Linked DNA regions of Homo sapiens: region 2 is reported to be linked to region 1. The links are microRNA targets in miRTarBase. Many come from high-throughput screens and were not tested one by one. Region 1 holds a microRNA gene; the other region holds the end of a gene's coding sequence.
What was found. Region 1 holds the annotated microRNA hsa-miR-450a-5p (UUUUGCGAUGUGUUCCUAAUAU, at 1,673-1,694, opposite strand). A microRNA usually pairs through its seed, bases 2 to 8, with sites in the 3' UTR of a target mRNA and lowers its output. Matches are read on the target gene's strand: a 7mer-m8 pairs with bases 2 to 8, a 7mer-A1 pairs with bases 2 to 7 and ends in A, and an 8mer does both.

Region 2: miRTarBase lists CEP97 as a target of hsa-miR-450a-5p. Seed matches in the 3' UTR shown: 7mer-m8 at 4,428-4,434.

What each region holds. Positions count from the first base shown.
Region 1 is chrX:134,538,892-134,544,069 of GRCh38, forward strand. It overlaps MIR450A2 (microRNA 450a-2), which reads right to left and starts at 1,716; the gene lies at 1,617-1,716. MIR450B (microRNA 450b) reads right to left here and starts at 1,371; the gene lies at 1,294-1,371. MIR450A1 (microRNA 450a-1) reads right to left here and starts at 1,540; the gene lies at 1,450-1,540. It overlaps MIR542 (microRNA 542), which reads right to left and starts at 2,546; the gene lies at 2,450-2,546. It also overlaps MIR503HG.
Region 2 is chr3:101,765,145-101,770,144 of GRCh38, forward strand. CEP97 (centrosomal protein 97) reads left to right here. Exons shown (of 11, transcript NM_024548.4): 11 at 1-5,000. The coding sequence ends at 407. Among named protein-coding and RNA genes, the nearest start is that of NXPE3, 12 kb to the right of the region's middle. RefSeq lists an enhancer at 4,405-4,484.

The sequences.
Region 1 (5,178 bases):
CTCAGCTTCTCCTTTAAGGAATATGATGGATCTATTTTGAAAGTAATGTCGGCCGGGCACGGTGGCTCACGCCTGTAATCCCAGCACTTTGGGAGGCCAAGGTGGGCAGATCACGAGATCAGGAGATCGAGACCATCCTGGCTAACACAGTGAAACCCGTCTCTACTAAAAATACAAAAAAATTAGCCAGGCAAGGTGGCGGGCACCTGTAATCCCAGCTACTTGGGAGGCTGAGGCAGGAGAATCGCTTGAACCTGGGAGGCAGAGCTTGCAGTGAGCTGAGATCGCACCATTGCACTCCAGCCAGGGTGACAGAGCCAGCCAGACTCCGTCTCAAAAAAAAAAAAAAAAAAAAGAAAGTAATGTCTAGTCATATGGACTTGCTAGAGTGCCAAATATGTCCTTGGTGGGGGAACAGTTTCCCAAAATGCTACTAAAAAGATAGGAAGGAACTTAGATCCTCCTGTAATGTGTCTCTGTCCAAATCAGTGCCACTGAGGAACGCTAAAACCTTGGTAGGTGCCCTTCAGACCATGGGCCAGGTACGTGACCAAATGGTTCCATCTCTTACCAGAACAAGGATCGCCTAAATTGAGGTGTCACATGTGTTCTGCAACACCAGAGTTACTATGGAGCTCAGCTGAATTTGCGGGAAAATGCAGGGGGGGCTTTACCCGCATCTGCAAGAAGTTGGCTGAGTGGAAATAACCTAAATAAGGTGTTTTCCTGACTTGGGCATATCTCAAACTGGCCAATGCGTCTTGAGGCCCTGGGCGAGCATCCAAGTACCACCTTCCTGAATTGCTACTAGAGGAAAAGGAGCCTGTTTCAGCTTTCTATACTTCTTTAAATGTTACTTTGATTAGACATAGATAGCAGTTTGTTTACTAATATTACTATTATAACTCTGTCGTGGTTATATTTTTTAGTTATACTTTCTCTTTTCTTTGCCAAGAGCAAATGAAAACACATTTGCACTGCAGATCCAACTGAAGTTGTACAAAGGTTTCCCAGATATGTTTGAAAAAGTATTCTAGGCCCACTGCTGGCCAAATAGGAAGTCTTCCCCCACCCTTATGTCAGGGGTTCATGCTTTAAAAAAAATACAAACTCTTTTTAAAAATAAAATGTTTTATTATTGCTATAAAAGCAATGCATTTTATTGTTTATGCAAATATTACTTGGAAAATACATAAAAGTATAAAGAGAAAAACAAACATTACCTATAATTTTATACTATAATACTGTTACAAGTTTTGGTATATTTCTTCCTAGACTTTTCTCCATATGTTGATACAAAACTATGGATGCAAAATGATCCCAATACACTTATATTACATATTCAGGAACATATTGCAAAAATAATTCTGCATCTTACATTTATCACAGAAGTAAACCACAGATAGCCGCTGTTAGATTTTTTGCTTATTCCCTCCATCTTTTCATCTGTATATTGATACAAAACTATACATGCAAAATGTTCCCAATATATTTATAGTGCATATTAGGAACACATCGCAAAAACAGTTTAGTATCGTTTTTGATTGCCTATAGTGACACAAGTCAGCGATAACCACCTCTAGACTTTTGGTATACTTCCTGATAGCCTCTTTTCCCCATATTATTGATACAAAACTATGAATGCAAAATGTCCCCAATACATTTATATTACATATTAGGAACACATCGCAAAAATAGTTTAGCATCTTTCTTTGGTCACCTTTATACCACAACTCAGAGATAATCACAATAAAGTTTTTATATGTTTCCTCCTAGCCTTTTATCTGTATGTTGATACAAAACTATTCATACAGAATGCTCCCTATATACCTATATTGCAGAGATGGGAAAATATTTTGCACCTTTTTTCAATCGCTAAATGTTTTATCAGGAGCACATTCTCATGACATGAAAATTACTTTCAGAAACATTATTTTACATGAAAGCATCCTATTCTATTGTACTAGCTAGCTACGCTGTATTTTATTTGTCTAATCCTTTGTTGTTGGTCATTCAGGATGTTCCTAACTTCCATCCTTAAAATATTGAAATGAGCATCTTTATGCATTTTTTTTAACTGGGGCTTTCTGTTCATGTAGTTTTTATGGTTTTTCTTGACCACTTGTGTGGACTCAACATACTAAAAATGACCCTGTGTCTGTAATGCTTATAGCAAAGTGTTTTCCAGTTGTTTGCTTGAGCATAAATTCTTTATTTTAGCATTCTAGCACAAGTATAAAATCATATACCTTATGTAAGTTTCAATTCATTCAACAAACATTTAAAGCAATAAAGACACAAATAAAGGCATTCCCATTACACTCCTATGAAAACACAACTCATCCTCCCACCCCATCCCATAGCAACCCCTTTCTTCTTTGCTTAGGGCCCACTTTCCTCCTGATCTTTTCATTGATTCGTCTTGTAATACTTACCACATGTTTTGCTATGAAGATGAGTGGCTCCCAGACCTTTCAGTTATCAATCTGTCACAAGTGCACACTGGTATCTCGTGACATGATGATCCCCGAGATGTCTGAGATCTGTGCATCCTTGACCGATCCCAAATTTCTGTATCACCCATGACCCCTAAAGACTTTTTAGAGAATTATATTTTGACAACATAACAAGAAAACGTGGCATCTCACACACACACACACACACACACACACACACACACACACACACACACAAAACCATGAAAAAGTAGAGAAAGAAGAAACTTCAGCTCTAATCCCACCACCCTTAAGTAACAAGTATGTCTGTTTTGCAGGTTTCCTCCAGGTTCTGCTCCTATTTTTCAATCATGGTGTCCATGTGATTTTGTGGCCCTGATTTTTTTTAAGTTGATATCATAAGCATTTTCCAGGTTTCTGTATATTCTCTATCATTATTATTTGCAATGGCTGAAAAAGGTTCCATTGAGTGAGTGACTAGATTAAGTCAACCCCTATAGCTTGACACTTCATTTGTTTCCTTAAGATAATTTGATTGAATCTACAGAAAATAACAAACATGGGACAGAGGTTTAAAATGAATTTAAATCATGCTTTTTTGGTTTGTGCAGATTGACTTGTACACGGCTGGGTAACTTATAGTCACTATTTAGTAATCCTGGGGCCAATCTTGGGCCTCACCCAGGAAGTGTCCAATGTATAGGCCAAAGCTCATCATAAGACTAGCCAGTTTCACCGGGAATTTTTGTAACCAAACACATTCACCTCCATTTCCTGCTCTGGTCACTACTGCATAGTCGGTTCTGATGAACAGGTAATGACATAAGGAACACAGTATGAGGCCTGGAGGAAGAGCCCCCAGAGAGTAGCCTCAGACAAATCCTTAACCTCCAGAGGCCCCAGTTTTCTTGTCTGTAATTATTTTTTGGACTGCCTTAACTCTGTTTGTCTTTCAAGGTTGTCACAAATTAAAAAAAGAAAAAAAAGAAAAAACAAAGTATTTGGAAAAGTATGTAAACACACGATACAAAGGCAAGATGTTGGGATACTGATGATTCTGTGGCCACGCCTTTAGAAGGTCTGGTCTTAGGGTAATAGTCTTGTCTGGATGGCAGGTGGGGGTGGACATGGGGGAACAGGTGAGGGAGCTGCCTTGGGAGACTCAGGCTTCAAAGCAACCCAGACTCTCACTGGCAGGTTGCTGCAGTGTTCTGAGCTCCCTGACTCCAGCAGTGGAGCCAAGGCCATGTTTCCAAACACCCACCAACTGCTCAGATTATAGAGCTCAGTAGTGGAAGGGGGAGTGCTCAAAGGCCCAAGCAACCACAGGAAGTGGAAGTCTTTCGGGGCTCCTCCCTCTTGGCTCAATTTACTATCCCCACAGGGGTTTTAAGCCTGGCTGAACTTGCCAAAGAGATCAGCTGTGGAGCTGGGGAGGAGGGAAAAGGTGGCAGATAGGTGAAATATTATGAAAGAGCTAGCCGATCCTTGTTTATTCACTGAGGAGTAACTAATGGGTGGGCCTGAGTGGGATGTAGGGGGGCAGGGAGATACACGTTTGCTACACTTGATGTATATATACTCTTTTTTGCTTAAGAGTCATGTAATAACTCTAAATACAAATGCATATATAAAATTCTAGGGTTATGAGATTAAGTCATACTGCAGGCCAATGGGAAAAAAGATCTCTAAAAACATATGCCAACTTGCATATAGCCAGACTCAAGTCTTTTAACTTCTATCGATAAACTCATTGATCTTCCCCAAACATATTTTTTGAACCTAGTTTTATTTTCATCTTACACAGCCTCAGGAAAGCTGCCTATAACTCCCATCTCATAGGCTCAGGTTTTCTGCAAATGTTGCCCTGAGCTCTATAGCAGTCCAGGATTCAGGGAACGAACCCAGTCCCCCGCTGCCCCATTTGCCTTGATGAGTTGATAGGTATGGTGTTTTAAAACAATCAGCAAAACAATTTGCACTGCAGAGTCCTTAGGAGTTTTTTTTTTAATTGGACAGTTGCCCATATTAACGGAAATCAAAAGCAGCATACAGTCATTCAATGTCCCAGCACTGGAGTACAGCCCACTGTTTTCCTGTGTGGGGTTCCACTTTAGTTCTTGTCTGTGTGCATGCATACATTTTTACAGAGTTGTGACCACTGCCTTTTTCTGTGACCCTGGTTATTGACATCTAGTTTTCCAAGTAACATTGACACACATCTGTTCAAATCAGTTGAGGTTCCCATCATGACTGACTCATTTGGCGGGAAAACCAAATTTACATGCCAATTGGAACAAAGAAGTGTGGGTATGGGGGAACAGCGGGGGGAAAGAAATGGTGGGAGAGGATTCCTTGGACTTACAGATCATAAAACATTTCCCAATAACATTTTTAAAGGATGTATAATATTACACTGAGTGATTGATTATATATTACCCTTCTATTTGGGACACTTGGGTGGTTTTCAATGCCTAGAGTTTTAAAATGCATATAAATTACAGCCTTTGAGAGATGATTGTATTTTCTTGAAACAGGAGTCTTCTGTGTCCAGGTCCCCGCCAACAGTGTTGATGTAGTGTTCCTTTGTTGGGGGGAAAAAAAATCAGTACTGCTAACTGGAGATGCTGGATGCCTTCAAGAAAAACATTCCTGTGATTTAAATTTTTAAAAAATTATGTTCAATTCTGGTTTATCAAACAACCTGGGTATCTTGTCTCAC
Region 2 (5,000 bases), not on the chromosome of region 1:
CCATAATGGGGAATTCCATTGACACAGTCAGATATGGCAAAGAATCAGATTTAGGGGATGTTAGTGAAGAACATGGTGAATGGAATAAGGAAAGCTCAAATAACGAGCAGGACAATAGTCTGCTTGAACAGTATTTAACTTCAGTTCAACAGCTGGAAGATGCTGATGAGAGGACCAATTTTGATACAGAGACAAGAGATAGCAAACTTCACATTGCTTGTTTCCCAGTACAGTTAGATACATTGTCTGACGGTGCTTCTGTAGATGAGAGTCATGGCATATCTCCTCCTTTGCAAGGTGAAATTAGCCAGACACAAGAGAATTCTAAATTAAATGCAGAAGTTCAGGGGCAGCAGCCAGAATGTGATTCTACATTTCAGCTATTGCATGTTGGTGTTACTGTGTAGCATGTCTTTTGGGAGGCAGATATCCACTTAACTTTTCTTAAAAATACTTTCAGTTGCCTTTGCTTTTTTTTGGAGGGAAATACTCCCTACCCCTAATTTTGTTACTACTTATATAGAATTTGTATTCATGTCTTATATTTTTCAGATTCTAGATATTGAGCTGAGTTTTCATTTTGATTTTGTTAGCTTTTTACTTAGCTGTAAGGTACCAAACTATTTATATTGAAAGCTATATGCACTTTATTTCTTAACTGAATTGCATCAACAATGTTCCTGTTTCTTTCATGTACTCATTTACTTTCAAAAATAAGCTAGAATATATTAAAGAAAATAGAAAAAATTACCTTAAATATATAAATAAGAGAATTTTGGCCCTTCTGTGTCTGAGAAAATTAATTATATAGCAAGGAATGAAATTTGATAAAGCAAATATAAATGAGAAATATGAGGATTGTGAATTATTGAAATTTGCCAGTCTCCCTGGTGTAAAATGTTTTTTTAAAGCCTTTTTTCCTCCTTTCGGAGTCAAGGAAAGCCTTTCTATAAGCAAATTAAGGAAGAAAAGGTAGGATTATAAGATTTCTCAATGGGGATGATTAAATTGTCTCATGGAAAACTTCAGTTAATGTCATGCATCAGTTTTAACATATGAAGTAAAGTGTTCTATCCAGGATTAAAGTCAAGTTTACTTAGGCAACACAAGAATATTTCACTTAGATATGAAGAAAGGAAACACTAGTCTCCATTCACTTGAAATACTCTCATGGCAAATATTTATCCTCTCATTAAGTGCTTTTTCACCCTATAGGTAAGCATTTTTGTGCCAACATGTTGTCAGAAATTAATGTATGTTCATCTCCTCTGTTCCTGCTTATTTTTACTTATATATTTCAGCAGAAGGTCCGTGGCCATTCACTTCAATTTTGACCTCTGTCCCATAGTGAAGAACATTTAAAGTAATACTACTGGTCGAATATGAATGACTTTTTAGGAACTACTTTTTGTCTAACCTGAAAAAGTTCCACATTTGGAAGACAATTTAATGATGGTGAAGAAATAATAAACCTCACTTTACTTGTTAAAAGGGATATATATATATATATATATGTCTGCAACTTCAGGGAGAAATAAGATTGTGTTTGAATATTGTAGGTAGATGCATTTGTAATTAAGGATAATATCGTTTAACAACATGTATTTGGTTTCCCTCAACTTACAGACATACAGCTATTTAAAACTATGGCAATACTTAAGCATCTCTAAATTTAGGTGCTAAATATCTATTATTCTGTTGTAGTCATTAGGTGCCCTTCTCTGAAGTTATGTAAAATAAAAGCATCTGATCCTTCAAGGATAAAGTTGAGGATCACATGGTACGTGGCATTTGTTGTTATTGTTTTTTAAAGAGATGGAGGCTGGCTCTGTTGGTGCGGTGCCATGATCATAGTTCACTATAACCTCGAACTCCTGGCTCAAGTGATCTCCCACTTCAGCCTCCCGAGTATCTGGGATTATAAGCAAGAGCCACTGCTCCCAGCTCATGGTATTTGTTGATAGTCATAACATTTTTCCTGTATGGTAAGACGTATTTTTCTCAGTTTATAAATACGTAGCACTCAGGTTGAGACGACTTGGATTTTATTCTTAGAAATCCAGAATCCCTTGAAAAGGAAATATTTTCTGTTTCTTATAAATAAAAGAGTAATCTTACTTTCAGAAGGATTTTCCTTAGTGAAACATGTGTAACATTGAATGCATGTTAAATAAAAATGGAATTTCTAACTTTTTTTCAATAGTGCTAATTATCTTTTCTGAATGATTTTGAATGTCTTCTTAAATATACCCTATTTTTCTATTTTAAAGTTAAGTGCCTCACTTGCTGTCCATAGTTAGACAAAGAAAAACCAATTTCCACTGCACTAGTACCAAAATACTACTTTATACATTAGTTTTTCATAAAAGCTGCTGGAATGTCATGATTCAGTATTACCTAAATAGATTTCTGCTAAAATCCTCTCCCTCCTGTCTTTTTTAAGTTATGGAAAAACACAACTAAATTCATTTGATCATCAGCACTTGTTAGCAGGATTTCCTTTTTTACCTTTGCCTTGTTTCTTTAGCCCACAAATAGTACTCAGCATACTTTCATTAAAAATTTGGCACAATATGATAATTGTTAATATTCTGTTCTTCGTCTGTGTTTTATTTAACTTTTACTAGTGTTTAGAAGTGCAAGAATATTAAATAGCCCCTTCCTTAACTGTACATATTATCTTGAATGTAGATAAAATGAAAATACTGTAAATTAGAGTGTAGGAAAACTGGCATAGAGTTAATATATTTTAATGGGTTTACATTATACTTTAAAAGTAATTTATATAATTAAAATATTTGGTTTTAACTCTATGGGCTATTCTTTGGTTGGCTGAAGAGGGAATGGGTCTAGTAAGGTTTGGAAAGTTAAGCTTTGAACATGGTCTTTGTGTTTTTTTCCTAACAAGGAAAGGTTTAGTTCAGCTGTGCTATTTTAGTACACATCAGTTCTCTTGATTTATGGAAGATTCAGTTTATCAATTAAGAATTCCTGCAGAAGCACAGAATCATACCATGTAAGAGTTGGAAGGAAGCTTAAGAGATTTCTGTTCGAATCTCTTTGTTTCAAAGATGAAACTAAAGCACAGCATGTTAAATGACTTGTCTAAGTTATAGCTAGTTAGTAGTAAATAAACTGAAAACCTATATGCTACTGTAGTCCAAAATTTTATTATGTCCTCTTAATCTTTACATTTAGTGAGTCAGTAAGGAAATCTCTGCATATTTCTCATTCTCTTTGAAAGAGGAAAAAAACTTCTAAGAGAGCTACAACTCTATCACTCATGACAGAGTTGCTTGTAGAAAATAACTAATTCCTTCAGAACCCTGAGTGAATTTTTTCTAAGAAATGTGACTTGATTAAAATGGTTTCAAAAGAGCAATAGTGGAAATTAAAGTTTTAGAAAAGAGACCTGGCGTGGTGGTTGACAACTGTAATCCCAGTGCTTTGGGAGGCTGAGGCCAGAGGATCACTTGAGGCCAGGAGTTCAAGACCAGCCTGGACAACATAGCAAGACCCCCCTCTCTACAAAAAAAATTTTTTTCTGAAAAGAATAAGTACATTTTAGAGTCCATTTATTTGACGACAGGCAGTATGACAGGTTGCTGAGGTATATAAAATTTTCTAGAGAAATGCTGAGTTTGATGACATTTTATCTTCAGTTTTGTAGAACAGATGTTAAAATGTTAACTCTCCTGGTGTGCAGAAAGCTGTAATCATGACAGTTGATAATATGCAATTTAGTTTGATTTTATAGGTTTAATTATAAAAGGCTTCACAATATGCATGTTTTAGGAAAATGTTCATTTATTTAGTCATATAATCGTTTGTATATATGTAAATAACTTTATTCTGGAATAATGTGGGTGCCATCTTGAGCGTGTGTTTTTATCTGTTTTGGATTATTTTTTGTATACAAACACCATAATACTGTATTTTCCTGTTATCTACTTAAGTCTAGTTCTACTTTTTCCCAATAATTTCAGGAAAATACAAGCTTGAGATATTATACTATCTCCCTTGGTATTTTTTGTGTGCAAAGTCTTAGAATTGGATTTATAACATTGATAATAAAAATATAAAACGTTTTTCCTCGGGAGTTAAGATGGTAAAAAGAAAAAAATAGAATGAATATGATCATTTCTCCATCATAAAGGAAAGAAGAGACTTCATTGTGTGTGTGTTTTTTTTTTTTTTTTCGAGATAGAGTTTCACTGTTGTCACCCAGGCTGGTCTCAGCTCACTGCAACCTCCACTTCCTGGGTACAAGCGATTCTCCTGCCTCAGCTTCCTGTGTAGCTGGGATTACAGGTGTGCAACCACAAGGCTCGGCTAATTTTTTTGTATTTTTAGTAGAGATGGGGTTTCACCATGTTGGCCAGGCTGGTCTCGAACTCCTGACCTCAAGTGATCCACCCACCTCGGCCTCGCAAAGTGCTGAGATTACAGGTGTGAGCCACTGTGCCCAGCCGAGACTTCATTGTTTAATGTATATTTTTATTTTTTCCAAACACCAGCTCGAATCAGAGTATATTTTTATTTTGCCACATACCTTTAAAAGGTATTTATTGTGTCATAATGTTTTAAATGTTAAATATATGATACCCTCATTCATGAAGTGAAGCAGAAAGGGTCTGTAAGGAACATTCTAAACATTTTTAATGATATTGCTTTTACTGATCAAGCTTGTTGTGCCATATTAAAATTAAAAGTCAAATAAACAAAGCAGTCCTCACAGCCTTGGAAAGAAATAGATAATTGTCTTCTTAAGATGAGGTGCTTTTTATCTGTGGATGAATGGAAATCACACTGAATTTTAATTCTTATTTATTTTAGTGGATAGCAGGAATCACTCTGTAGTAGTTGTGTTCATTTTCTTTTCTTTTTCTTTTCTTTTTTTTGAGAGAGTCTCGCTCTGTCACCAGGCTGGAGTGCAGTGGCGTGATCTCGGCTCACTGCAACCTCCATCTCCTGGGTTCAAGTGATTCTCCTGCCTCATC